3 separate regions of the Homo sapiens genome follow, and regions 2 and 3 are each linked to region 1. Evidence: fine-mapped expression QTL. A gene starts in region 1. Each other region holds a variant in brackets. All regions are shown on one strand. Distances are from middle to middle. Region 1 holds the start of CTBP1-DT (CTBP1 divergent transcript). Region 2 overlaps LOC105374347 (a long non-coding RNA gene). Region 3 overlaps MAEA (macrophage erythroblast attacher, E3 ubiquitin ligase).

Region 1 (9,922 bases):
CCCTCATGTGGTTCTTTCTTGGCATGTTTTGTACTTTATGATTGTAAATTCATCTTCAGTGGGCTTTATGGGTAGGAATTGGAGGGGGCTAGATTGATAATGTCTACGTGATTTTGCTTCTATCACTGTGCCTGCTTCTGTCATGGGCTTCAAGGGTATTACTAGCCTGGGCCCAGGTTTTATATCAAGTTATTTGCTGCAGGGGTGGTAGGGCCTGGACTGTGAAACCTGTGAAAATTCGATACCTAGGCTGGGCACGGTAGCTCATGCCTGTAATCCCAGCACTTTGGGAGGCCAAGGTAGGAGGATCACTTGGGCCCAGGAGTTCAAGACCAGCCTGGGCAACACAGCTAGACCCTGTCTCAAAAAAAAATTCAATACCTGAAGTCTAACAAGGCTCTGAGTCCTGATTATCAATTGTCATCAAAACTGTTTCTGTCTCACAGAACCACAACAGGCAGGCAAACACAGAACCATCCTGTTGTCTTCCTGTTCCTGTGGGCACACTCATTCACATCTCTCCTGATGGCGTAGCCCTTTGAGTGCCCTTGTTCCAGTTCCTGATTCACGTGGATCCAGGGAGGCCTCGTCTCCTTTCCCATGTGAGTGTGGAGACTTAAACCCCGGGGCTCCAGACGAACACTCTCCTGGGCTGCTGCCCTTTGGCTCTCACACTTTAAGACCTGGTTTTCAGCCTTCTGTTTGTCTCTGGTTCCTGTCACATCCCTGACCTCCTTGTGAGCTCAGCTCTGCATCAAGTTTGTTGTTTCTATCTTGTGCTCACAAGTTCTGTTCTGGGAGGCTTTTGGGGTTAGACCATCACAGGTAAAGACAGAAGGGGAAATCTACTTTTGCACCATTTCTAAGATCAATTTCTAGGCTTGTTTTCAGAACATTTGCCATCCCCCTCTGTTCTGGTTTGAATAATTGTCCCCTCCAAAATTCATGAAGTTTGATTGTCATTGTGATGATCTTGAGAGGTGGAACCTTTGAGAGGCGATGCAGCCACGAGGGCTTTGCCCTCCTGAATGGGCTGGTGCTATTATCATGGGAGTGGGCTTCTTATCAAAGGGTGGGTTCAGCACTCTTTTCTCTCTCTCTCCTTGCCCTTCTGCTATTCTGCGATGTGATGATGCAACAAGAAAGCCCTCACCAGATGCAGCCCCTTGAGGTTGGACTTCCCAGCCTCCAGAACCATAAGCCAACAAGCTTCTGTAAGCTGTCAGTTACCCAGTGTGCAGGAGTCTGCTATAGCAGCACAGAATGGATGAAGACATCATTTTGCAATCCTACAAGAAAGGTGTTCTTTTGTACTCATTTCATCACTGGCTAAACTGGACTCTGGATGGCTAAAGTAACAAGGCAGGTCTGTCTGCTTCCAGAGGACCTGTCCTGCTGCGGCGGTTCTGGGCTCCCCTGCGCTTTGTGGCATTTTACAGCTTGCAGTCATCCTGCAAGGTAGATGTTACTTCTCTTCCCATCTTATGGCTGAAAACCAAGCCTTACAGCAGTTATACAAGTTATGTGGCAGTTTTCAGCGATTGTATTAAAAAATATTTTAGGTAAACAATGTGGTGTATATACGCAATGGTATACCAGTCAGCCTTACAAAGGAAGACAATGCTACCATATATGACAATATAGATGAACCAGAAGGGCATTATGTGAAAAAACCCAGGCACAGAAAGACAAATGCTGCACAATCTCACTCACAGGTGAAATCTAGAAAAGCTGAACTCACAGAAGCAGAGGGTAGAATGGTGTTTACCTGGGGCTGGGGCCGGGCAGTGATGTTGGTCAAGGGATACATTTCAGTTACATTGGAGGAATATGTTCTAGGGATCTATAGTAGGACATGGTGACTGGAAAATTGCTAAGAGAGTAGATGTTAAGTGTCCTCACCACACCAAAAAACAAAAAGTATGTGAGTTAATGCATGTTAATTAACTTGATTTAGCCATTCCACAATGTATTCATACTTTAAAACAAGTTGTAAACAATATATACAAGTATTATTTGCCAATTAAAATACATACATTTAAAAATATTTTAGATATTTGTCCATTTTTGTTTCAAGTTTACTTGCTGGTCATTTTATTGTTAAAAAATTCTTGGTTGTTTTCGGCTGGGCACAGTGGTTCATGCCTGTAATCTCAGCACTTTGGGAGCCTGACGTGGGTGGATCACCTGAGGTCAGGAGTTCAAGACCAGCCTGACCAACATGGTGAAACCCCATCTCTACTAAAAATACATAAAATTAGCTGGGCGTGGTGATGGGTGTCTGCAATTCCAGCTACTCGGGAGGCTGAGACAGGAGAATTGCTTGAATCCGGGTGGCAGAGATTGCAGTGAGCTGAAATTGCACCATTGCACTCCAGCCTGGGCAACAAGAGCGAAACTCTGTCTCAAAAAATAAAAATAAAAATGACTGGTTTTTTTTTCTGTGTGTACATGACTGACAAGACCAGTGGTTTCCTTTAATACCTCATCGACGTTCCCAGGCACTTTTTGTATTTGAGGTGTGTGAAGTAATAGGTTGGCCCTTGTCTTGAGCGTGATACTGAACACACCGACTAATAAAATGGGGGCCTTTGGCTGCACACCAGGCGCTCTGGGTACTGATGAGCTCGCCCCCAACTCCATGCCAGGAATCAGAACGGTTGCCCGGGAGAGTCGGCAGAAAGAGGAGGAACCGGATGCAGTGATCTACCTGGTTTGTCCTGGTGTCCAGTAACTTGGAGTTCTTCTTTCACACGTGGCTGGCACAGAGGAGACACTCATAAATACCCGAGTTGAATAAAATAGTCCATTGACATGGAGTCGCATGAAGCAGCATTCGTCCATCCAAAACGCCGATGCTTCTTTAGAGTGGACTGAGTTTTCCCCCAATACTAGGTTGTCCCACGCGATGGACAAAAATAGCCCATGTGGCAACGGAGGCTGGCCGGGGGGACCTAATGCCCATGCCTCTGGCATTCCCACCAAGGTGACTGTCCAGTAGCTCCCAGGACAGCCCATCCGTGTAGGGCAAACGCCATGAGCCACTCCTGTGTGCAGGCACAGGGCAGGCCCAGGCACAGGGAGGCGGGTGGGCAGGCACACAAACAGCCAAACGCTGACCCTGGAGGGCGGTGGTCATCTGCTCATCACAGGGGAAAGACTGGAGGTGGGAGAGGCAGGTGCCACCCGCAGGAGTTGGGACGAGCTGTGCACACGGCTGGGCACACGCAAAGCTGAGCCTTCTTCGTGAGCAACACGGTCACATTTGGGTGTAGGAATCTTGGCTGGAGTTGCCCAACGTGGGGAGCAGACAGCTCTGCAGCCAGGACCCCAGTTGGAGAAGGCAGCGCTTGGAACAAGCCAGGACAGTGGACAGACGGGCCGGTGCCAAATAGAAGTCATGATAACGCGCTGACAAGCTGTGCAGACGAACACTGTGTGTAGACGGAGGCCATGGAGAGTGACGATGGGGAAGACGCTGGATCCCTGGCTGGCCTGCATCCCTCTCCGTTCTCAGTTGCCTGTGGAATTCCGGGGAGCTCTGCTCCAGCTACACTGCACATAAAAGTGCGCAGGAAGTGGATCCTGGAGAGGAACTGTTCTTCTGGACTGAGCTTGCTGCTCATGGCAGCCCCACCTGCAGGACCCAAAGCCTTATGTGATGTTTGCTGGACACTCAGCCACGTGGCTGCCTGTTGAGCTCTGCAAGTCCACGCGGGAGCCAGGAATTCCTCCCCAGAAGTCTCTCCATTATATTCACCACCCCCTAGTAAATCACAACCTGACTTGCTGCAGAGGATGGAGTGCCTGGGACTCGTCTGACCCCAGCTCCCCTGGGGAAGTGGGGGTGGTACGTCCCTGCACCCGGCCACGTGCTGCCTTCTCCTGGGCTGCCTGTCCATGCTGAGCAGACAGGAAAGTCCAGTGAGGTCCCTGCCTGTGCACTCCACCAACCACATCGTCCCTTCCCGGCAGCCTCACCTAGGCCCCTCCAGCTACGACCCCTTGTCCCCTGCACCGATGCCTGGCCTTGGAGGTTGCTGCTCATTTTTCTGGAATTTTTTCTTAGATCTCTGCAGGGCTGCCCCTCCCCCTACAAGGGCTCCACACGTGTTCCCTCCTTCATGACTCCCACTGGGCTTCCCCGACAGGGCCTCACCCTCCCCAAAGCTCTGGTGACACCTGCCAGGTTTCCTCCAGGCCACAGCTCGGCAGCCCGATCTTAGAACAGAACGTGGCACGCAGGGCAGGTCTGGCTGAGGGCCCAGCATTGTCAGCGGGGTTGGAGGTCTTCCCGGGCCTCGAAGGGGAGACGTAGGCTTCTCAGGGCAGCCCAGGACGCGTCCTCACGAACCACAGCGAAATTACAGCAGGTATCTCGCGGATAGGAGTCTGCATCATTCCGTCTCCATGCCGTGGTTTCTGAAATTATGCAACTATCTCGGCATTCCAGAGGGCTCAGAGTAGCCACGCGCAGAGGCCCTCCCCATGGGGTGGATGGAAGCGTCCACTCGCGGCGCGAGGAATATCCCTGGGCCCCTCGGGAGAGTCTGCAGGGGCAGCCCCTGGGTGAGCAGGCCCAGTGCGGCCTCTCCCTGAAGGGACTTTCGGGCCCTCCCGGGTCGGGGCTTCACCGGTAGCAGGCAGGGCTTTGATATTAATGCTTAAAGGGAAAGCAGAGCTGAGCTGTCAGGACGTTGGTTAGCTACAAACCCTACTCTTGTTAAAAGAGAAATGGGGTCGGGGAAGGGGTTCTCCAGCCCTGAACTTCCCGGGCCGGGCAGGACGCGGTCCCTCCAGGAGTCGGGGCTCCCCCGCCTGGGGACGCACTGGGGCAGGCGCGCTTCTCCTCTCGGGGTCCCATGTGCCGCCGGCTCTCGGACGGTAAATCAGGGCTCGGGTGGGGGCGATGGGGGGCCCGCGGCCTCGGTGCCCCTGGCCAGCCTCGGAGGCGCACGGGCCAGGCCGCGGGGCGAGAAGCGAGCGCGGGAGGGCGGCAGCTGGCGGAGCGGGAAGGGAGCGGGGCGGCTGCGGCTGCGGCGCGGAGGAGCGCCATTTACGTTCGGGCCCGCGCCAGGCGCTGACGTGGGCGGCCCTGTCTCGGCTTCCGGGCCCGCAGGGTCCTCGGGGCGGACGGCGCTCCCGCCAGCGGCGCTGAGTCCGGCCCGACCCTGCCCGACTTCCTCGGGGACAGGCGGTTTAGAACGTGCGGAACACCAGGCCCGGGGCCTCCGCCGGGCTGCAGCCCCGCGAGCTTCCCGCCAGGCTCCCGCCCCGCCCCGCCCCGCAGCCGCGTCCCGGCCGGGCGGGCCCTGAGCCGCCCGCGTGAGTCCGTGCGCCGCCCGCGCTGGGAACCAGGAGACCAACCGCGAGGCCCCGCCCGCGCGCGCCGCCGTGTCCCCGCCCGCGCGGTCGTCGGAGCGCGGCTCAGCGGCGCGGCGGAGACTCGGCACGGCGGCGGCCAGGCGCAGGCGGGCGGGCGGAGCAGCGGACGGCGCCGAGGCCGCCCCACGCGCCGGGCTCGCGGCGGCGCAGCGCGCCGGAGTGGTCGGGGCCCGCGGCCGCTCGCGCCTCTCGATGGGCAGCTCGCACTTGCTCAACAAGGGCCTGCCGCTTGGTAAGGCCGCGCGCGCGCGCGTTTCCGGCCGCGGGCGGGGGCGGGGCGGGGCGGGTGCCGCGCGGGCGGGGGGCGCGGGGGCGGACCGAGCGCGCGCCCGCGGGCCGCCGGCTTTGTGTGCGAGTGCGCGTGCGCGCCGGCGTCCGCGCGTGGCCGCGGTCGGGGGCGGGACCGCGGGAAGGGTCTTGCGCATGCGCGGGCCGCTGCGTGTGCGCGAGCGCCGCAGTCTGCTCTCCCCGCCCGCGGCCCGTGCAGGTGACACAAAAGGGCCTGTGGGCCTCTGGGCTGCCCCGCCGGACCCCCAGCTCCACCGACCCCAGCCCCGTCGGACCCGGGACGGCACCCCGGGTCCCGATCCCCGGCCGCTACCCCGTCCCCGGTCATGACCCCGTGGCTGGGCCTGCGGGGCCGGGATGGGGCGGGAGCCGTGCGCAGCTCGGGGTGTCCTGGGGCGCGCGCTCCCGGGCCACTCGCGGGAGCGCGCCTCCCGCGGGGAGGCCGCCGGCGACCGTGGCCGCGCGCTGTGGGGGAAGGGGACGGGGCGCGGGTGCCGGGTATGACCGTGGAGGAGGCCGCTGCCCTCAGACCGGGCCCAAAGCGCAGCCCCCGGCGGTGACGCGGGAGGGCCCGGGGTCTCCGTTCCCGCGAACTCCGCGAGGTCCCGGACCGGCCCAGCGCCCCCACCTGCCCTTGCCTGGGCCCGCCCAGGTCCCGGGGCGCCTTCCTCGCGGGCTGCGGCCGCGGAAGCAGGGAGCACGGGCGGGCGCCGGGCTTGCCACCATCGCCATCTTGCAGCGCCCGCGTCCTGGGCCGGCCCGAGCCGCTGCGCGGAGCCTCTCTTTCCCTCGACCCGGCTGCAAAGGCAGAGTCCGTGCGCCTGAGCCCCGGGCCGAGACTGGAGCGTTCTCTGGCGGCCTCCAAGGGCGCCGGTGTCTGGAAGCCCGGCCTGGGCCAGATCCCTTTTGCTGTCGTCTCCGTGATTGCCGGGACAGAATTCCCTTCCAGTGGGGAAAAGGGAAGGCGGTCGCGCCCTTCCCGGTGCCCTGAGTGGGGAGGTGAAACCCTGAGAGTTGGGGCAAGAGGGCCTGGAGCTAGGGCCGAGGCGGCGGGTGCGCAGGGTGTTCCGTTGAGCCCGAGCCCCCCCCCCCTCCCCGGCCTCTCCACCGTTTCTGTAGGAGCGCGGCAGGGAGCACACGTCCCTCGGGAAGAAAACGGCGCTGGCGGCTGGGCCCGCACCGCGGCCGTCCTCGCTGAGCTCCTAGCGCGTGGCCTTTGCGCGTCTGTGTACCCGTCTGCAGCTTGGGGCAGGGTTGGGGGAGAACCGTGGGGTAACTATTTGCCGTTGCAGCTGAGGATGACAGCTGCGGTTTGGGGGTCCCCCTTTCTGTGTCCTGGAACTTTGTAGGGCGTGGCTCTGCCCTGGGCCTCAGCACCCGGCCTCCCAGGTCTCCCCTGCCTGCCCGGGCCTGGCCACCTCCCTCTGGGGTCTGGGTTTGGCTCCTGGTTGGGGCTGTCGGCTCCGCAGACGCCTTTTGCTCTCTGTGATTCTGTTGCCCATCTTTGAGCACCTGCTTCCATACAGGCGTCCTCTGCAGAGCTCTGGGAGGGACACGCACTGGGGGTGGCATCTGGTCACTCCTGGGGGTGCCTCGTCCGCCTGCCCGGCCATTTTTGGGGTGTCTGCCATGTCCCCAACATGCACTTCTTCCTGTCAGCCTTGACCAGGGCAGCTGTTAGTTCTGAGAGGTGGGCGTGTGGTTGGGGATGTCAGCGAGTAGGATCTTCCCTTTTACTCGCTTGTCATTAACCTGAGAACGTGGCAGTGGGGGAGGAGAGGCTTGGCCCGGGGTGCACAGGACTGTGGGCTGGTCCTGTCCCTCTGATGAGTGGGACGAGCCTTGGTCCAGTCCTGTGGGCTTGGCGCAGAGCCGGCCCCCTGCCATGTCCTGGTGGGATTGGAAGTGCTGGCTCGTCCTGTCTGCCTCCCCCAAGGGCTGGGAGCCCCCCACTCTTTGGACATTTGTAGTGTAAGCAGACAGCAACTGTTAACCATCATTCTGTTAATAAATTTTTTCTGGAGGAACCCTGGACAGAAGTAGTCATGCTCTCCAGGAAACGGGCCCCAGGCTCGAGAGGCCCAGTCTCTTCCCTCGGGGCTTAGAGGTGGCCGTCAAGCCACACCTGGTTCCCCACCAGCCTGGCAGTTTTTCTGGTTTTTCTCCTCTGACTGTCACTTGCCCTCTCAACTTCCTGCGGCCAGTACCCCCAGAATGTGACCTGGTCTGAGCTGACGGTGGTGTCACTGAGCCAAGAGGCGTGTGGCTGGCACCACTAGTGTTGCTGAGAACTCTTCAGGCAGCACTTTGTGCCCGGCTGTGCCCTGGTGCTCCCCATGCAGTGCCCAAGTCAAAGGTGTGTGCCCTGTGAGGTGTTTACCCCGGTTGACTCTCCTTGTAGAAGGACTTAATGTTTCCCACTCCACTGGGGGCTGGAGAGGGCTCCATCCAGGTGGTGCTGACGGTGCAGGCCTGGCCCAGGGCCCAGGGGTGGCCAGGAGGTGGTAGAGGCAGCAGGCAGTGTCATACGGGTTCTGTGGTTGAACTGCATCGCCCAAGGGAACGCTGGTCGGAGCGCCGGGTGGAGCGCCAGGGTCCTCTGGTGGTCGCTGGATGTTGGTAGTTGTGGGTAAGAGCTCTGTGCCGGGAGTGTCTGGACCCCCGGGTCCTCCATTGTCAGCTGCAGTGGCCGGAGCCCACTGCTCTCCCCCGCACTGGGTCGTGGTAACCCACAAGGTGCCACCTGCGTCACTGACCATCGTTTCCAGAAGCCCCTCCGGCCACACATTCCATGTGGTATCTCCCACAAGGAAATGTTCGTTTTTTTCCCTGTGAAGCCAGAAATTTCTTGGTGGCTCTTTGCCGAGCCAAACGTTAACCTTGAGTTGTCTCTCTGGGCGGCCCCAGGTGGTACCAGTTCTCACGGGTGTTGAAGGAGAGTGAGGATGGCCCTGAGGGAAGCCCAGTTGGTTTGGTTGGGGAGGCGTTGGGGCTATGGCCCTGAGAGAGGTGTGGGCGGTGTTGGGACCAGGCCCCTTCTGCACCCTCCCCTGGCACCGCCGTTAACTCTCCAGGCCTGGTGTGGCCCAAGCCACCCTGCCTACCCGTGCTACCCTACCCACACGTGCCACCCTGACCTGCTTGTGCCATCCTGCCCGCCCGTGCCACCCTGCCCACCCGTGCCACCCTGCCCTGCCGCCCGTGTCACCCTGCCCGTCCATGCCACTCTGCTATGCCGCCCGTGTCACCCTGCCCTCCCGTGCCACTCTTCCCTGCCGCCCGTGTCACCGTGCCCTCCTGTGCCACCCTGACCTGCCGCCCGTCTGTGGTGTGGGGGCTCCTGGGCTGCCCTGTCTGCGTGGCTGGCAGGAGCCTCAGAGGCATCCGAGGCTGTCTCTCCAGTGGTGTCGTGTGTAGACTGTGTTGGGAAGGGGAGGAAGGTGTAGCCCTGATACCCCACATGTGGTAGGAGCCAGGAAGGTGGCGTTCTGGGGGTTCCTGGAGCTCACAGGTTGTGTGCATGTGCTCGCTGAACAAACAGGGAAACGTGCGGCTCCACGGATGTCCTGGAGAGGAATCTTGCTGGCAAATCCATGCCTTTGATCACAGCCCCTGCGCTGTGTCCTCTGAGCTGTGATGCGGCCCTGCAGGCCCCGTGGAGTGCGGTGGCTCCCTGGCTCACAGGGATGCTGCCGTCCAAGGTGCCGTATCGGCTCGTGGATGACTTGGGCAGTGTCTGTCTGGGGTGCTGTCGTCGGAGGAGCTGTTTCAACCTGTGGGTGACGGGCCTTGTCTGTCTGGGGGAGGTTCTCTTGGCCCCGTGCTCTCAGCCCAGTGGCTCCATGCTGCTGTGCGGCTCCCTCTTGGGGGCCTGCCTTCTCTGCCATTGCAGGGCAGGGCCTCAGTTTTCTCTGGGCGGCAGGTGGCTGTATCTCAGGACTGGAAGGCTCCGGGTCAGGCTGTGCACAGCCTTCGTTCATGTCAGCCCCTGGCTGGGCAGCACCGCCAGGCCCTAGTCTTTGGGCCTCCAGGCCTGGACAGCCAGAGGGGGCATCTCACCAATGCCCAGATGGCTGCCGGGGACTCACGGCAGGGCAGCTTTGTCACGAGAGGGCCACTCGAGCCCGGAGTAATCAGGGCTTATGGGGACAGGGCAGGGTGAGGGCCGCTGAGACCACCCAGCCTTAGGGTGCCCTTCTGGTGGTCGGGGAGCCCTTCCTGGGCAGCGGCTTTAGGGGCTGCTGTGGGG
Region 2 (9,922 bases), 32 kb before region 1:
GCCCAGCTAATTTTTTTTGTATTTTTAGTAGAGATGGGGTTTCACCGTGTTAGCCAGGATGGTGTCAATCTCCTGACCTTGTGATCCACCCACCTCAGCCTCCCAAAGTGCTAGGATTACAGGCGTGAGCCACCGCACCCAGCCCCTAATTGCTTTTTACACTGTTGTCCCCACCTTTGAGTGATGCCTTTGTTTTAGCCATTTTTGCATCCTCACAAACCAATCAGTGTGCACTCTGAGCCCATGAAAGCCCCAAACCCAGCCACATGGAGAGAGAAACCATCCGACTTCAGGTGGGGGACCACCCTCACATCCCTGCTCCACTGAGAGCTGCTTTGTCACTCAATAAAATTCTTCTCCATCCTCCTCACCCTTCAATTGTCAGTGTATCATCATTCTTCTTGGACGTGGGACAAGAGCTCAGGATGCACCAAATGTGAATACAGAGAAGGCTGTAACTCCATAACCCTTTGCCCTTCACCAGCAGAGGGCAGCCACCCCATGTGACAGAAGCAGCAGTGGGACTGAGCCAGCCCTGGAGCCATGGGCTGATGCGGGGCAAGCGGCTGACAGAGCTGTTGACGCACCACTGTCCATCAGGATGCAGACTAAAAGAGCTAATTAGCATGCTGTAACACCCCCTCTGGGGCTTCAGGATCACAGCACCCCTACCTGGGCGCCACCGTGTTCCCCTTGTCTGGACGCCGGAGTCCACCATGGGAGTGGCTTGCAACATGCCTGGTCCAGCCACAAGCCCTGCATGGAGCCTGCGTCTGTGCTGACACTTGGAACCGTTGGCTGGACCCCGCACTCACTCGCTCACACCCCCTCCCACTGGGGGCTGAGTGCACAGTCGGAACAGCCGCAAACGCTGGAGTGCGGGCCTGGCATGACATGATGGGCCAAGTGAATGGGCATCTCCTGTGGCAAACCTGGGCCTGAGCAAGGGTGTCGCTGGCTGGGGGTCTCTGGCTGACAAGTGACCAAGAAAAGTCATGCGCCGCCATCGTGTCCTGAACTGATTTTTCAGGTTTCTTTGAAACCCCCTTGGCTGAAGGTGGGGGTAGGGGGTTCCATTCAGTCAGTTGGGGGAGCTTAGTATCTTATTTTTGGTTTATATAACTTGAAATTGTCCAGCTGTCAGACTCTGCCACCAACTGGCTATCCTACAATCCAACCCCATTCACACTCACTCGCAGAGTTAGCACAGACCCCACAGGCCAAGGGCTCCGTTCCACAAGGCTGTCCCCACTCCAGGTGACGGCTGCACATGGGGTGCCCAGGCCACCCACAAGGCAGATGACACATTTGGGGCTCCCACAAACCCTTCCTCAGGTTCAATAATTTGCTAGAATGACTCACAGAGCTCAGGAAACACTTAATGCTTCCCAGCTTATTATGAAGGACACAGCTCAGGAATAGCTAACGGGAGTGCATCGGGCATGGTGGGGCGAGGAGCTCCCAAGCCTTCTCTGCGCGGCAGCCGCTCAGCACTTCGGGGCATCCACCAGCCAGGAGGCTCTCCTGAATCTCATTATTCACACATTTTCATATCTCAATCCCCAGCCCCCCTCATCCCCAGAGGTGGAGGTGGAGTGGGAGAGGGGCTGAGAATTCCTGCCAACCAATCTCCGGGTCTTTCTAGTGATATCTGGAGGCCCCACCCAGAGTCACTTCATTAACATAAACTCAGGTGTGGTGGGAAGGAGTTCCTTATGAAGAAAGAAGACGCTCCCACACTCAGGAAATCGCAAGGGTTTTAGACACTTGGTGACCGGAACCAGGGACCAAGACCAAATATACTTTTTGTCGTAGTATAGCATTCAACAGCTGCCATGTTCTGCGTCTCTTGGTTCAAACTTCCAAAATCTTAGGCTCCAAAGTCTTGCCCAGTGTGGGTTGGCTGTCCATCTGGACTAATCAGCTATGCCAGGGATGAGCTGTGGGGCACACGTGGTTCCCTTGTGTGGGTGGGCCAGGAGCACGCAGAGAAAAGCAGCCCAGAGACGGATGGTGCTGGGTGCCTCCTGCATGGCCGTGTGGGAGGACCTGACCTGTGGCTCAGGGACGCACTGTCATAGCCAGCTCACATCACATGCTGCAGGGGGTCCACATCCTGGGGCCCTTCTTATCTCCACTGATGGACGGACGTCAGGGCTCTGCTACTTAAAGGTAACCCCCTCAAGTTCGAGGGGGTGACTCTGCCCCAAGCTGCACGACACAGCCCTTCCTCTCACCCAGCCAGATCCGTTTTCTGCGCTGGAGTTGCCCCTGTCGTTATTTTGATCCACACATCTCTTAGGAGGTGGTTAACACCTGCTGAAAAACTTAATTCTTGAATGAATGAAACATGTACCTCACATCAGGTAACAAGATTTTACACAGTTCACTGTTCTGTTGGTTTTTATTTATTTATTTATTTATTGAGACAGAGTCTTGCTCTGTCACTCAGGCTGTAGTGCAGTGGCACGATCACAGCTCACTACAGGCTCTACCTCCCGGGCTCAACCGATCCTCTCACTTCAGCCTCCTGAGTAGCTGGGACTACAGGCATATGCCATCATGCCTAGCTAATTTTTAAAGTTTTTTTGCAGAGACAGAGTTTCACCATGTTGCCCAGGCTGGTCTCAAACTCCTGGGCTTGAGCACTGACTGTTTTGTTGGTAAGAAAATAGCATCTGATTTTCCCTTAAAAGTATTTAGTAATACAAACTATAATTAGTTCCTATGGTTAGCTGTAGAGGTGGAATCGACTCAAGCCACACAATTGTTATCTTCACAACATCTGTTTGTAAATGTCTCCAGTAAAGGCCTCCCGGCTCCCTGGAGGAGGAGGCCGGACACCTGCCAGTGCTGGACGGTGGCCTCCCTGCTCCCAGGTGGGGCCCAGCCAAGGTGAGTGCTTGAGGTAGCTTCGGTTGGGCCAAGCATCTTTTCCTCTGGATAAATACCCAGTAGTGGAATTGCTGGATGGTAGTTCTACTTTTAGTTTTTTGAGAAATTCCACTGTTGGTGGAGGGACTTCCCACTGTTAACCGGTACAGCCATCACTAATGTACACGCCCACCCACCGTTCCCACGGTTAACCAGTACAGCCATCACTATTGTACACACCCACCCACCGTTCCCACGGTTAACCGGTACAGCCGTCACTAATGTACACACTCACCGTTCTCACTGTTAACCGGTACAGCTGTCACTAATGTACATGCCCACCGTTCTGTTAACCGGTACAGCCGTCACTACTGTACATGTCCACCCACCATTCCCACAGTTAACCAGTACAGCTGTCACTAATGTACATGCCCACCGTTCTGTTAACCAGTACGACCGTCACTAATGTACACGCCCACCCACTGTTCCCACGGTTAACCAGTACAGCCATCACTACTGTACACACCCACCCACCGTTCCCACAGTTAACCGGTACAGCCGTCACTAATGTACACACTCACTGTTCTCACTGTTAACCGGTACAGCTGTCACTAATGTACACGCCCACCCATTCCCACGGTTAGCCGTCACTACTGTACACACCCACCCACCATTCCCACGGTTAACCAGTACAGCCGTCACTAATGTACACACTCACTGTTCTCACTGTTAACCGGTACAGCTGTCACTAATGTACACGCCCACCCATTCCCACGGTTAGCCGTCACTACTGTACACACCCACCCACCGTTCCCACGGTTAACCGGTACAGCCGTCACTAATGTACACACTCACTGTTCTCACTGTTAACCGGTACAGCTGTCACTAATGTACATGCCCACCGTTCTGTTAACTGGTACAGCCGTCACTACTGTACATGTCCACCCACCATTCCCACAGTTAACCAGTACAGCCGTCACTAATGTACACGACCACCGTTCTGTTAACCGGTACGGCCGTCACTAATGTACACGCCCACCCGCTGTTCCCACGGTTAACCAGTACAGCCATCACTACTGTACACACCCACCCACCGTTCCCACAGTTAACCAGTACAGCCATCACTAATGTACACGCCCACCCACCATTCTCACTGTTAACCTGTACGGCCATCACTAATGTACACGCCCACCCACCGTTCCCACTGTTAACCGGTACAGCCGTCACTAAAATACACGCCCACCCACCGTTCTCACTGTTAACCGGTACGGCCGTCACTAATGTACACGCCCACCCACCGTGTGTGAGAGCTCCCTTTCCTCAGCATCTTCAGCAGCATCTGTTATTTTTTGTCTCTCTAATAAGAGCCCGTGTAACTGGGGTAAGATGACGTCTCGTCGTGGTGGTGACTTGCCCTTCCCCGATGCTTAGAGGTGCTGAGCATTGTTTCATACACCTGTTGGCTGTTTGTCTGTCTTCTTTTGAGATATGTTTATTCCCAAAATAGACATTTCTATTTTGGGGGCTAAAAGTGCCCTCAGGCCACTTTCTAGTGGGATTTTTTTTTTTATTGTTGCTTGAGTTCCTTGTATACTCTGGATTTTAGTCCCCTGTTGGATGAATAGTTTGCAAATATTTTCTCCCATTCAACAGGTCGTCTCCACCCTCTGTTGACTGTTTCCATCATAGTGGGTTTTTTTGGGTTTTTTTTGAGATGGAGTCTTGCTCTGTCGCCCAGGCTGGAGTGCAGTGGCACAATCTCAGCTCACTGCAGCCTCTGCATCATGGCATTTATTTTATTTTATTTTATCTTATTTATTTATTTTTTGAGTTGGAGTCTCACTCTGTCGCCAGGCTGGAGTGCAGTGGCGTGCTCTCGGCTCACGGCAACCTCTGCCTCCCGGATTCAAGTGATTCTCCTGCCTCAGCCTCCCGAGTAGCTGGGATTACAGGCGCCCACCACCACACCCGGCTAATTTTTGTTTTTTTGTTTTGTTTTGTTTTTAGTAGAGATGGGGTTTCACCATGTTGGTCAGGATGGTCTCAATCTCTTGACCGTGTGATCCACCCACCTCAGCCTCCCAAAGTGCTGGGATTACAGGCGTGAGTCACCGCGCCTGGCCCACATCATGGCATTTTTAAAATTCATCATTTAATGTCATTCTAAGTAAAGAAAAATAAGCAGTTATTCACACGAATTGTAGTGTTCATCGTCACCTAACGCTAGTTTTATTTTTTATTTTTATTTTTATTTATTATTATTATTTTTGAGACGGAGTCTTGCTCTGTCACCCAGGCTGGAGTGCAATGGTGCAATCGTGGCTCACTGCACCCTCCACCTCCTGGGTTCAGGCGATTCTTCTGCCTCAGCCTCCTGAGTAGCTGGGACTACAGGCGCCCGCCAACTATGCCCGGCTAATTTTTGTATTTTTAGTAGAGAGGGGGTTTCACCCGTGTTAGCCAGGATGGTCTTGATCTCCTGACCTTGTGATCCGCCCGCCTCAGCCTCCCAAAGTGCTGGGATTACAGGCGCGAGCCACCGCACCCAGCCTGTCCAACGCCAGTTTTAAGTGCAAACATAAGCAAATCATAGTGTTCACCATCATTTGTCTGACGCCAGTTTTAAATGCAAACGTAAGTGCTTTAGTTCGAACTCTGCGTCACCAAACTCACGAGGCCTGTGCTTCCCAGCTCGATTGCACAGACCTGTTTTGTTCTTCTTCATGGAGTGCTGCATGAAGCTAATGCAGCTGTGATTTCATTTCTGATGTGCACATATTTTACCAATGCCCTCTACTTTTA[C/ACTTAC]TGACAAGTAAGGGGTGTCTGGAGGGAAAAGGAACTGTGGGTTGCCTCATCTTTCCTCCTGTCCACCATGTTCAGCACACGCAGTTCTAACGTGAGGAAGTCCCATGCGTAAGAAGTACATGATGGGGTATGTGTTTCTTGGCACTCCCCTGTTTCTTTTGTGTTTATAGCATGTTCTGGTTCAAACAGAAGGCATGGCCTCTCTGGACTTTGGGGCCACTGCTCACTCCGTCCTGGATGTGACACCCTCACTTGCACCCACTGGAAACCTTGCTGTCCTTCCACACCTCATGGACCCCTCAGAATTCTGTGTTCGTGGGGAACTACCCATGCTCTATGCAGCTGGGGTGCCGGGAACAGGTGCAGATGGGATGTCTCTCACCGTTGACCATCTTGTATATGCAAGATTTGGGGTTTTTTTGAGACAGAGTCTCGCACTTTTGCCAAGGCTGGAGTGCAGTGGTGCAATCTCTGCTCACTGCAAACTCTGTCTCCTGGGTTCAAGCAGTTCTCCTGTCTCAGCCTCCTGAGTAGCTGGGATTGCAAGCACACGCAGTTCTGATGTGAGGAAGTCCCATGCGTAAGAAGTACATGATGGGGTATGTGTTTCTTAGCACTCCCGTTTCTTCTGTGTTTATGGCATGTTCTGGTTCAAACAGAAGGCATGGCCTCTCTGGGCTTTGGGGCCCCTGCTCACTCCGTCCTGGATGTGACACCCTTACTTGTATTTACTGGAAACCTTGCTGCCCTTCCACACCTCGTGGACCCCTCAGAATTCTGTGTTCGTAGGGCACTACCCATGTGCACCACCACACCTGGCTAATTTTTGTATTTTTAGTAGAGACAAGGTTTCACCATGTTGATCAGGCTGGTGTCAAACTCCTGACCTCAAGTGATCCACCCGCTTTGGCCTCCCAAAGTGCTGGGATTAGAGGTGTGAGCCGCCTTGCCCGGCCGTATCTGCAGATTTGTTTCTTGAATTAAATTGGGAAAAGTTCCAGTTACGATTTCTTTTTTTTAATTTTAATTTATTATACTTTAAGTTCTGGGGTACATGTGCACAACATGCAGGTTTGTTACATATGTATACATGTGCCATGTTGGTGTGCTGCACCCATTAACTCGTCATTTACATTAGGTATATCTCCTAATGCTATCCCTGCCCCATCCCCCTCACCCCACGACAGGCCCCGGTGTGTGATGTTCCCCACCCTGTGTCCAAGTGATCTCATTGTTCAATTCCCACCTATGAGTGAGAACACATGGTGTTTGGTTTTCTGTCCTTGCGATAGTTTGCTCAGAATGATGGTTTCCAGCTTCATCCACGCGTCCCTACAAAGGACATGAACTCATCCTTTTTTATGTCAGCCACGATTTCTTTAATGATCTTTTCCTGCCCCATTCACTCTTGCTTCTCCTCCTGGGATGCCAATTACGTAAAGGTTGGACAGTTGGACACTGTGGTCTCCGTGGCGGTGCCACAGGACGGCAGGGCTCAGTCACGGCAAGCTGGGAGGAGCTGAGAGCCAACTCCTGTGCTCAGTGTGTCTGTTGGGCTCAGACACACAGGGAGCCAGAGATTTTGCGTAGACATGTGAGGAGAACTGCTGAGCACACTTCACACGGCAGAGCTCCTGAGCCGCGACCCTGGCGGGGTTGTGAGGAACAAGAGAGGATAGCCAACAAGATGGAGAGGAGATGGTGCTGGGCCATCCACACTAACCTGGCAGGAACTGGAGACCTGCTGGGGTGGTTGTACTAAACAGAACAGAGAAGGCAAGAAGAATGCAGTGCTGCACGGCCCCTGCACATCAGCATGGATGCTCCCAACGGGCAGAGCTCACAGAACGCAAGGATGCAGCCCTTGACCAGGGAGGAGCGAGGACGCAGAGGACCAGGGAGGAGCGAGGACGCAGAGGACCAGGGAGGAGCGAGGACGCAGAGGACCAGGGAGGAGCGAGGACGCAGAGGACCAGGGAGGAGCGAGGACGCAGAGGACCAGGGAGGAGCGAGGACGCAGAGGACCAGGGAGGAGCGAGGACGCAGAGGACCAGGGAGGAGCGAGGACGCAGAGGACCAGGGAGGAGCGAGGACGCAGAGGACCAGGGAGGAGCGAGGACGCAGAGGACCAGGGAGGAGCGAGGACGCAGAGGACCAGGGAGGAGCGAGGACGCAGAGGACCAGGGAGGAGCGAGGACGCAGAGGACCAGGGAGGAGCGAGGACGCAGAGGACCAGGGAGGAGCGAGGACGCAGAGGACCAGGGAGGAGCGAGGACGCAGAGGACCAGGGAGGAGCGAGGACGCAGAGGACCAGGGAGGAGCGAGGACGCAGAGGCCAGGGCAGAGCATGACTTGGGAAGTCCAGGGCGCAATTGGCAAAGGATCCTCAGCTATGACACCAAAGGTACAAGCAACACAATGAAAAACAGAAAGATCGTACTTCATCAAAACTAGAAATGTTTGTGCATCAAAGGACATTACAAAGAAAGCAAAAAGACAACCTACAGAATGGGAGAAAATATTTGCAAATCATATTAGATAAGACACTTGGAGACAGAATATATAGTGTTTACAACTCAACAACAAAAAGACAACCCCTTAAGAAATGGACAAAGCACTGAGTACACATTTCTGCTGAGAAGACTTACAGATGACCAATTCGTCACTGAAAGAGGCTCACCACCATGAGTCACCAGGTAAGGTGAATCGTGACACTGAGACATGGCTTCATAGCTGCCAGGAAGCCAAATCCAAGTGGCCAGCGTCAAGGAGACTGTGGGAAGTGGGAACCTCCTACTTTGCTGGTAGGTGCAAAATGAATGCACTTGCTGTGGAAGGTACTTTGGCAGGTTCCCAAAAGTTAAACAGAGTTAGCATAGTCAGCAATTTCACTCCTACGTAGATACCCCAAAGAGCTGAAAATTGGCATTCCAACAAAAGTTTACACATGTAATAGCAGCACTATTCAGCCAAAATGTGGAAACGGGTGCCCATCTACTGGTGAATAAATGAACAACACATCGCCCATCACATGACGGAATATCATGCAGCCATGAAAAGGAGTGAAACACAAGCACGTGCCACAATGCAGGTGAACCTCAAAAACACCAGCTAAGGGAGCTAAGCCGGTCACAGAAGAGTGTATAGCGTGTGACTCCAGTACTAGGAAATGTCCAGAAAATGCAAATCCGTAGGGACAGGATCAGACTGACAGTTGCTGGATGGGGGTGGAAATGGGAGGTGACTGCCGCTGGCACGGGGTCTCCATCTGCCCACCTGGGGCAGCTTCATGCCGCATCTGGGCCTCCCGGGTACTGCCCACCCCAGGTGAGGGGCCACCCCACAGGCAGGGCTCCTCTCTGGGCATTGCACCTCAGGGGAAGACTGGACACTGGCCTAGAGATGTTGTTATTTGTTGTTAAATAAAATTGAGGAATTTTAAAAGATAGTTTTTTCTTGTAAAAAATATGTACCATAATATTTCTCATTTTCATCATTCGTAAGTGTACGATTCAGTGGCATTAGCTATATTCACAATGTTAGGTACCCATACCACTATCTATACCCAAAACATTCATAATTCCTAACATAAACGATGCCTCAATTAAACAAGAACTCCTCGTTCCCCTCTGCCCCCAGCCCCTGGTAACATCAGTTCTAGTTTCTGTCTCTATTAGGCTGCCTGTCCTAGGTACCTCATCTAAGTGGAATAACATCTGTCCTCCTGGGTCTGGCTTATTTCACTAAGCATAATGTTTTCAAGGTCCACCCATCTTGTAGCATGCCCCAAAGTCAAATTTTGTAAATTTTATAAATTTTGTACATTTTTCAATTTTTCTTCAGGTACTGATTTCTAACTTTATACTGTGATGGTCAGACAGGATTCTTTTGTATGATATCTATCCTTTGTAATCTGCTGAGGCTTAATTTGTGCTTAACATGTAGTCTATCCTGGAGAATGTCCCATGGACATTCCTTTTCATGGCTAAATAGTATTCCATTGTATGTGTGACCAAGCTTTGTGTATCCATTCCTCTGTGGACGGACTCTTAGGTGTTTCCAGCTTTTGGTTATTGTATATAATGCTGCTATGAACATTCGTGTACAGGTATCTGCTTTCAATTCTTTTGGATCTAAACCCAGCAGTGGAATTGCTGGGCCATAAGAAAGTTCTATTTTTAGCCATTTGAGGAACTGCCAAATCGTTTCCTACAGAGTCTGCACCATCTTCCATTCCCGGCAGCAG
Region 3 (9,922 bases), 91 kb before region 1:
CTTCAGGTGATCCGCCCGCCTCGGCCTCCCAAAGTGCTGGGATTACAGGCGTGAGCCACCGTGCCTGGGCCACCGTGCCTGGGCCTGCCCTGCATCCTTCTGTTCGCTTGGACCAATTATCTGACTCACTTGGGCTTCTCTCTTCCTCTCACTCCATGCCCATTTGGTTTGCAAATCCTGACAGCCCTACCTTCAGAACACATCCAGATCTGAGCACGTCCCACTGCCTCATTGCCACTGCCAATTCCTGGCCACCCCTGCAGCAGGTCACTGCCGTCACCTTGTCTTTCCCTTGCACCCTGGTACCCCTAGACCATCATGCAGCAACCAGAGGGACCTTTGAAAGTCTAAGGTCGGATCACAGGATTCCTCTACACAAAATCCTCCGACGGCTCCCATCCCAGGGCAAGGCAAAACCTGTCGTGGCCTGTGTTTGCTGCCCCCTGCATCCCACCGGTTGACTTCTCCAGCCTGCTCTTGCTGCCACACGGCCTCTGGGGAGCGGATCCCTCTGCCGGGAAGCTTCTGCCAGTATCCACAGAGTTCCTTGCCTCCTTCCAGCCACTGCTCATGTCTCACCCTGAGCAAATACTTCTGCACCCGCTCACCTCCCTGGCTCAACACCCCCCATCCGTTTTCTAAACCTGCCGTGCTTGTTCCCAGGGCACTTCTGGCCCTTGTGTCACACAGACTTACTGTCTTACTAGGTGATTCGCTTTTTTCTCTTCACTCCTAAAACATACAGTCCCTGAAAATAGGGATCTTTGTTTCATGAAGCCAGACAAAAAGCAGGTGCTCAATATTTGTTGAATGCTGGATAAGATTAGAAAGCCAAGATAAATCATGATGAGAGTTAGACGATATTCTTGTTTGTTTTTGTTTGAGACAGAGTCTTGCTCTGTCGCCCAGGCTGGAGTGCAGTGGTGTGATCTCGGCTCACTGCAACCTCTGCCTCCCAGGTTCAAATGATTCTCGTGTCTTGGCCTCCCAAATAGCTGGGATTACAGGCGCCCACCACCACGCCCAGCTAATTTTTGTATTTTTAGTAGAAACAGGGTTTCACCATATTGGCCAGGCTGGTCTCGAACTCCTGGCCTCAAGTGATCTGCCCACCTCAGCCTCCGAAAGTGTTGGGATTACAGGCATGAGCCACTGCACCAAGCCAAGAATTAGAAGATACTTCTAAAAGATATTTTAAAAGAACCAATGGAAACTTAGAGATGATAAAACCCAAGCAGGATAAACAAAGAAAACCACCCAAGGCACATCTTAAATTGCAGAAAACTAGTGACAAATCTTAGAAGCAGTCAGATTAAACAAGGCGTATGACATACAGGCACAAAGAAGCCAAGGATTTCTTGTCCCCTCCTCCCCCTCCACCCAAAAAAAAAAGCCAGAAGAAAATGGAACATCTTTAAGGTGGTAAAAGAAAAAATACTGTCAATCTAGAACTGTATATGCAGCAATATAGCCTTTAAAAACTGAGGTGATGTAAAAGCATTTTCAGACAAAAGCTGCATGAATTATGACCAGCAGATTTGCAGTCCAGGAACTGTTATAGGATGCTCTTCAGATGAAAGGAAAATGATACCAGAGGCAAACTTTATAAAAGGAATGAAAAGTTCTATAAATACTTTTTTTTTTTGAGACGGAGTTTCACTCTTGTCACCCAGGCTGGAGTGCAATGGTGCGATCTTGGCTCACTGCAACCTCTGCCCTCTGGGTTCAAGCGATTTTCCTGCCTCAGCCTCCCGAGTAGCTGGGATTACAGGCACGTGCCACCACGCCTGGCTAATTTGTGTATTTTTAGTGGAGACAGGGTTTCACCATGTTGGTCAGGCTGGTCTCGAATTCCTGACCTCATGATCTGCCTCCTGGAGGTGGCAATACCTTAGATGCGAGAAGGATCTAAATCTGCAGGAAGATATACCATATTCATGGGTTGAGGACTCAATATTGTTATGATTTATAAGTCCTTGTTATGGACTGAATTGTGGCCCCTGCCTACCAAATTCCTATGTCGAAGCCCTAACCTCCAATGTGACTTTATTTGGAGATGAGGCCTTTAAAGAGGGGAACGTTAAATGAGATTCTAGGGATAGAGCCCTCATCTGATAGGACTGATGTCCTCGTAAGATGAAGAGACTCCTGAGATGTGTGTGCACAGGAGGAAGTCCACCACGAGAGGTACACAGTGAGAAGGGGGCCGTCTGCAAGCCGGGAAGAGAGGCCTCACCGGGAGCCAACCCTGCCAGCATCTCCTCTAGAACCGTGAAGAAATAAATGTCCATTGTTTAAACCCGCTAGTCCGTGGTCTTCTGTTACGGCAGCCGAGCAAACTAATACCGTCCCCAAATAGGGATGATAGGTTCACTGCAGTTCCAGTGACAATCCCAGCACACTTTTTACAGTGTTCAGCAGACACTGATGAGTTGATTTTACAACGTGCGTGGAAATGCAACAGACCTAGGACCACCAAGACCATTCTGAAAAAGCAGAACTGGAGGACTCATCATACCCCCTGGTTTCAAGATTTGCCTTAAAACGGCAATAGTTAAGATAATGTGGTGTTAGGACAAGGATAGACCTAAAGGCCAGTCTAACAGAAGGTAGTGTCCAGAAATAAACCCCAACTTAACACAGCCAGGAATTTTTTCTAATGGAGCCAACGTTATTCAACGGGATAAGAAAGGTCTTTTTAACAAATGGTGTTAGAACAATAGAGTAAACATATGGGATGGTGGGGAATCATCCTCAGGCTCTTCCTCACACAACACACACAAGTTAAGAGATGTGTTACAGACTTAAAAGCCGAAACTGAATCTTCTGGAAGATATATTATTGCAACCCTGGAATAGGCAGATTTTTTTTTTAGAACATAGAAAAGCATTAGCCACAAAAGAAAGAATAAATTGAACTGCACTAAAACTTAAAAAATCTGCTGATCAAATGACAGTCAATAAAGTATAAATACACATATCCCTCAAAGGATTTGTATGTGAGGAATCCCTACAAATCAGTAAGATAATGCAATTTAAAATGAGCAATAGACAAATATGTAAATTACAATCAGCGCATCAGGTCAAAATCAGACATCAAAGAAAAGCAAGGGAAAATCACACTGTGGCCCCAGTGCACACCCACCTGAATGACTAACCTGACACTACCAAGTGTTGACAACAATGTGGGGCCACTGGAATCCTCACACTGCTGCTGGAGTGTAAAACACTACCACCAACTTTGGATAAATCTTTGGCAGTTGTGGTACAGTTAAACATAAACACACCATGACTCAGTTCCTTCTACTTCCAGAGAATTACTTCCCAAAGAAATGAAAATAATGTCTGCAAGAAGACTGGCACACAAATGTTCATAAGAGGTTTACTTATTATAGCCCCAAATAGGGAACAACCCAGATGTCTATCAAGAGAATGGATACAGGCCGGGCGCAGTGGCTCACACCTGTAACCCCAGCACTTTGGGAGGCTAAGGCAGGCAGATCATGAGGTCAGGAGATTGAGACCATCCTGGCCAACATGGTGAAACCCCGTCTCTACTAAAAATACAAAAATTAGCTGGGTGTGGTGGTGTGCACTTGTAATCCCAGCTACTCGGGAGGCTGAGGCAGGAGAATCGCTTGAACCCGAGAGGCAGAGATTGCTGTGAGCCAAGATTGCGCCACTGCACTCCAGCCTGGTGTACACTGTGGTCTGTGCATACATGGATTACTATCACTCCACTCAGCAACACCTAAGGACGGAACTGCTGACATGTGCAACAGGCATGAACCTCACAAGCGTCTGTGGAAACAAGCCAGATCCACCAGTGTCCACATTCCACCATCTGACACCTATGGAGGCACAGCTCACCTACGGTGACAAAAATTAGAGCAATGATTTTGTGTAGGGGTTGTGGATAACTCAGAAGGTACAAGGGGTCCCTTTCTGGGGCCATGGGGACGTTCCATGCCTGGGCTTCAGTGGTGGTCACATGGAGGTACATTTATTAAGACTCATTGAGTAGCTTTTACTTGTATGTGCATTTTGGTGTATGTAATTTTTACCTCAATTGAGAAAGAGTACAGCGAGATAACACAACCAACAAAACATCTCACATTCAAGACTCCCAGTGCCACTCGCTGGTGTGGATGTGGAGCAGATGGGCAGAAGTGGGTGCAACCCCTTTAACAAACCGTCAGTGTCTGCTGAGTGGACACGTGGCCCAGCAATGGCAACTCCTCGGCATCTCCCCACAAAAGAATGATGCGTCCAGCAAGGGTCACCTCCCGGAGTGCTCACAGCAGCTTTACCTGGACACCGCCTGATGTCCACCGGCGGGAGAGGGGCCAGGCCGCTGCGCTTGTTCTGCCTGGAGAGCACAGGCCTGTAACCAGGCAAGACTTTGCCGTGCCAGGGCTGAGCCGCCGAGTAACGCTGAGCCACGGACCCACGCCATGTGGCTCTGTGTTCGAGGAGCTCAGGGCCGGGGTGCGCCACTCCAATGATGACTGACCAGGATATTGACCGGGCAAGGCCAGGGGCTGGGAACAGTCTGTTTGGTGGTTACATGCATGTTACACAGAAATTCGTTATGTGAACTTAGAATGTGTGTGCTCCAGTATGTTCTACTCGAGTTAAAAAGGAAAGAACAGGACGCAAGACAAGGAAAGCCCCTGCACGTGAGGACGGTGGAGGCCGGGGC[G/A]GCTGCGTGGCAGTGGGGCCACAGGGTCTGCTTCGGCCGAGGGGACCTGGGGACGGGCGCTCCAAAGAAGAGCACGTGGGAATGTGGTGGGTTCCAGCTGGGTGCTGTGGAGGGGCCAGGGCAGCCACCATGGGGTAAGAGATGGGCTAAGGGGCACCAGGCTGGCCACAGGAGCTGCGACGGGGCACTGGAGAGAACAGGGGTGGGCGGTGGGGGGAAGGGCCAGTGGCCACAGCCCGCAGGCCTCCTTAGCCCAACCCTAGACTCAGCCCAAGCCGCAGGCCCAGGCTTGCTGGTGGCTGCAGCCTGAGCCCCCACCCCCAACAGACAATGGCCCGTGGGTCCCAGGAACCAGTGTCTGATTCACCCAGCTGCAAGCCGGGGCCTCAAGACGCTGGGGCCATCACGCCTCAGGGCAGCGCCCGAGAGGAGGACTGCGGTCCGGGCAGGAGTGGCCTCCAGCCGGCTTCTCAACTCCCGGTGGCCGTGGTGCCAGAAGCTACGCATATGCCCGCCATGCTGCCCGGGCCCCGGGGAGGAGCAGAACACAACCTCGGTGTTAGAAACGCACGGCAGCCTCGGCTCACACGGAAATGAGAAATAGAAAACCATTTTATTCGCATGGTTTACATTTACAGTTTATTAGCTAGTCAACATCAACATGCAAAAATAAGCACTAACTACAAACCTCTACGATACGGTTCTCTGTCAGCTACGGTGGTTCATTTGTTTTGAAAAGTCATCAGTACTTCTTTCAACTGAACGATTAATTTCTGTAATGGATAGCAATTAGACTCTACAGTTATGGAACCATCCGGCAAGGCCTCTGCAGAAATTTGGTCCCGTGGATTTCCACGTTATACATTCTCGAAGCAGGAAGTAAGGCGGCACACAGAGGGTGTGATATCGAAACGACGCAGCTACGAACACAGCCCCGCGATGTGATATCGAAACTATGCACGTACGAACACAGTCCCGCGGACACGACCCGCGAGGCAGGCGGGCGTCCTCGAAGCCAGCCCCCGACGGTGGCGGCGCCAGGCGTTTTGGCAGCAGCTCTCGAATGAAGCCATAAGTGTCCCTCGTGGCGCGGCATCGCGGGTCACTGCAGGTCAGTCCGGTGCCGCTGCCACCTTCCCCGGCCAGGCCAGGGCCAACAGGAAGTGGTGAAGGACCAGCCCGTTCTCCAAGTCTCATCGTTCACAGAAGGAAAGAAACTGAAAACACAGGGAAATCACGGACTCCTATATTTTAAACGTTCTTAAGTTTCCCTCGGTGTTTAGGTCAGTCTTTAAAGAAGAGTTTCCTTCGCAAGTTGAAAGTACTTTTCAGAAGCATCAAATGGTTGACGTGTTACAAAATCCTACCAATCCAAATGTTTTCAAGTACAAACTTATGAAACCTTATTTTCTCTCTTCCTAAGAGTATTTATCGTTGCTCACGGATCTTTGGTCGCAAGAAACAGAAACGCCGCGGCAGGCTGGAGCGTGGGACAGGAGGAAGGCGTGGCCTCCCCGCCCACTGCAGCCCGTCCCCGAGGCGTGCGCTTCACGACGTGGGGCCTACATGATGTACACCTTCTCGGCTTGTGAGAAGTGGAAGACTTCTTTGGTTCTCGGGCACACGACTTTATCATCTTGACGGATAGAAAGCAGAGACTGAAAAATAAAACCGGGAATGCATTAAGGCAAGCGACTACAACGTACACACGGATTTCCATGGAAAATCCCCACAATGAACCACCAGGGAATGACTCATCCTCTCAGGCAAAGTTCCTTCCCGAAGGCACACCTGCCAAAGAAATCCCGGGGCCACCTCGCCTGTCCTTCCCACCCCTTCATCCATTTCGAACGAAGCTAAGGCAGGGTGGGGCGAGAGGACAGCCCTGTCCCAATGGCGACGTGTGCCAGCCTGGCCCCGCTGCCCTGCCCGCCCCACACAGCCCTGTCCCGATGGCGACGCGTGCCAGCCTGGCCCCCCGCCCTGCCCGTCCCACACAGCCCTGTCCCGATGGCGATGCGTGCCAGCCTGGCCCCCCTGCCCTGCCCGTCCCACACAGCCCTGTCCCGATGGCGATGCGTGCCAGCCTGGCCCCCCTGCCCTGCCCCCCTCACATTGTAGCCGTAGACGTAGCCGTTGGGCAGCATCATGGGCGGATTGTTCTCGTTCATCACGTCGCCAGAAATCTTGCAGACCAGGCGGGAGTTGGCACAGTGGGCCATGGGCAGGGGCTGCGCCAGCTTGTTCAGGGAGCGGCTGCACACAGGGCAGTCAGGGCTCTTGGAGCTGCCGTCCTCCTTGTAGCACTGTCTGAGCATCGGGTCAAGGAAGGGTTGGGGGCCACTCAGGGCAGCCGGGGTGAGCCCAGCCCCCTGTGGCCACTCTGCCCTGGGCTGCGTGCCCTTCTGGCTATGTGGGCGCCATGCTGACTACACGGGGCTGTCTTTCGAGGCACAGGAAGTGCTGCACTCGACAGCTAAACAGCCCCACTGAGGCCTCGGTGGAGACAAGAAGCCTGCGCCTTCTCACCCCGGCCTCCAGCACCAGGACCACAGGCACAGAGTGGCTCCGTCGCCCGCCGCCCTCTCCCCGGCCACGCAACCTCTCCAGGCAGGACAAGAGCCACCCAGCAGGGACGTTCTGCTGGCACCTAGGAACAGGCAGTGGGCAAGCACGCCAGCCCTCTCGCCCAGAGTTCCACAAAGAGGGGACAAGGGAGGGGGCCTGAGTCTCATTCATACCCCGGCACAGCCAGGTACCAGCAGCAATCGCGAAACACTCACTGCCCTCTGGGCCTGAGGCAGGTCACATGAAAGACATTCATAGGCGGGGACAGAGTCAGTTGCAGGAGGACAGTCAGTCACAGGTGGGGACAGAGTCAGTCACAGGTGGGGACAGAGTCAGTCACAGGAGAGGGCAGAGTCAGTCACAGGCAGGGGTAGAGTCAGTAAGAGGCTGAGTCACAGGCAGGACGGAGTCAGTCACAGGTGAGACAGTCACAGGGCAGGGGCAGAGTCAGTCACAGGCGAGGACAGAGTCACAGGCGGGATGGACTCAGTTGCAGGAAGGGACAGACTCAGTCGCAGGCAGGGGCAGAGTCTGTCACAGGCAGGAAGAAGTCAGTTGCAGGTGGGACAGAGTCAGTCACAGGAAGGAATCAGTCACAAACGGGACAGACTCAGTCACAGGCAGGGCCACAGTGAGTCGCAGGCAGGGACCAAGTCCGTTGCAGGCGGGAGCCGAGTGAGTCACAGGCAGGAACTCAGTGAGTCGCAGGTGGGACAGAGTCACAGGCAGGATGGAGTCAGTCACAGGCAGGGACAGAGTCACAGGCAGACAGAGTCGGTCACAGGTGGGACAGAGTCAGTCACAGGCGGGACAGAGTCAGTCACAGGCAAGGTTCTTGGTAATCACACGGGAAAACTATTCTGAATGGTAATCTGCCGGCTGCCAGAACACATCAAAATCGGGCTTTTAGATCAATGCCCATGGCGGCCTCTGAGATGATGAGAGAGGAAGCGCGCCACTTCCCAGAGTGAAGGCTGCACGACGCATCCGAGGCCCCTCAACACGGCCCCACCCCGACCATCCAGACACCACGCAAGTGCAGCACACGGGAGCTCGGGGCTGTCTGTGGTGGGAGGACAAGAGTGGCAAGGTGCAGGGTCAGCGTGTTAAAATATGACCAAAGATGCCAACCCCAGGCCAAACCGCACTGCGCACGGGAGGTAGGATACGGTGTCTTGATGGCTGAGAGGCCAGCCTGCAGGGTGAGGGTGAACACAGAATTGTTTCCCAGCTGGTGTAGTCGGTAGTTGTCGTACCGGAACTGCTGGATCAGCATCCGCCACCGTGCAGGGTCCAGAAGGTCCTGGAAGACAGAGAGCAGAGGGTCCTGGGGATGCTCCCAGGGAAGCTCCTGGGACAGCTTAAAAACGTGGACCATGGTGAAGCAGGTGCCATCGGCCCACAGCCATCCCCCAGTGACCCACACACTTTGCACTAAGGGTCAGCACAAAGCATAACTCCCTCAAGTGTTGACTGATACACACAGTGGGATGAGTGCTGACTTAACTATGATTTCAACATGCTGCGGGATGAGTGCTGACTTAACTCTGATTTCAACATGCTACAGGGTCAGTGCTGACTTAACTCTCTGATTTCAACACACTGCGAGGCCAGTATGAACTTAACTCTGATTTCAACATGCTGCGGGACAAGTGCTGACTTAACTCTGATTTCAACACACTGTGGGATGAGTGCTGACTTAACTCTGATTTTAACATGCTGTGGGGTGAGTGCTGACTTAACTCCGATTTCAACATGCTGTGGGGTGAGTGCTGACTTAACTCTGATTTCAACACACTGTCGGGGGAGTGCTGACTTCTCTGATTTCAAAATACTGTGGGGCCAGTTCTGACTTAAGTCTCTGATTTCAACACGCTGTGAGGCCAGTGCTGACTTAACGCTCTGATTTCAACACCTGCAGGACAAGGGCTGACTTAACTCTGATTTCAACACTCTGCGGGACGAGTGCTGGAACTCTCTGATTTCAACATGCTGCAAGGCCAGTGCTGATCTAACTCCCTGATTTCAACATGCTGCGGGATGAGTGCTGACTTAACTCTGATTTCAACACACTGCAGGGCAGGTGCTGACTTAACTCTGTGATTTCAACACACTGCAGGGCAGGTGCTGACTTAACTCTGTGATTTCAACACACTGCAGGGCAGGTGCTGACTTAACTCTGATTTCAACACACTGCAGGGCAGGTGCTGACTTAACTCTGTGATTTCAACACACTGCAGGGCAGGTGCTGACTTAACTCTGTGATTTCAACACACTGCAGGGCAGGTGCTGACTTAACTCTGATTTCAACACACTGCAGGGCAGGTGCTGACTTAACTCTGTGATTTCAACACACTGCAGGGCAGGTGCTGACTTAACTCTGTGATTTCAACACACTGCAGGGCAGGTGTTGACTTAACTCTGTGATTTCAACACACTGTGGGGCCAGTGCTGACTTAACTCTGTGGTTTCAACACGCCATGGGGCCAGTGCTGACTTAACTCTGTGATTTCAACACACTGTGGGGGCCAGAGCTGACTTAACTCTGTGGTTTCAACACGCCATGGGGCCAGTGCTGACTTAACTCTGTGATTTCAACACACTGTGGGGCCAGTGCTGACTTAACTCTGTGGTTTCAACACGCCATGGGGCC

The links. PIP is the estimated chance that this variant, and not a neighbour inherited with it, causes the effect.
Region 2: its variant is fine-mapped to the expression of CTBP1-DT in skeletal muscle (GTEx, PIP above 0.99). The same link has a PIP of 0.9 or more in tibial nerve.
Region 3: its variant is fine-mapped to the expression of CTBP1-DT in whole blood (TOPMed, PIP above 0.99). The same link has a PIP of 0.9 or more in lung.

What each region holds. Positions count from the first base shown.
Region 1 is chr4:1,244,611-1,254,532 of GRCh38, reverse strand. CTBP1-DT (CTBP1 divergent transcript) reads right to left here and starts at 5,093. Exons shown (of 2, transcript NR_033339.1): 1 at 5,061-5,093; 2 at 1,526-4,422. CTBP1 (C-terminal binding protein 1) reads left to right here and starts at 5,403. Exons shown (of 10, transcript NM_001012614.2): 1 at 5,403-5,617. RefSeq lists enhancers at 4,125-4,214, 4,275-4,324 and silencers at 4,695-5,624, 5,795-6,514.
Region 2 is chr4:1,276,912-1,286,833 of GRCh38, reverse strand. LOC105374347 (a long non-coding RNA gene) reads left to right here. Exons shown (of 3, transcript XR_925046.3): 3 at 386-470. Among named protein-coding and RNA genes, the nearest start is that of MAEA, 8.0 kb to the left of the region's middle. The variant C/ACTTAC (reference allele first, on the strand shown) is at 5,677.
Region 3 is chr4:1,335,511-1,345,432 of GRCh38, reverse strand. MAEA (macrophage erythroblast attacher, E3 ubiquitin ligase) reads right to left here. Exons shown (of 9, transcript NM_001017405.3): 7 at 8,439-8,572; 8 at 6,816-7,011; 9 at 5,296-6,359. The coding sequence ends at 6,264. It also overlaps a transcript of UVSSA not described here. Among named protein-coding and RNA genes, the nearest start is that of UVSSA, 6.7 kb to the left of the region's middle. RefSeq lists enhancers at 1-508, 5,733-6,251. The variant G/A (reference allele first, on the strand shown) is at 4,702.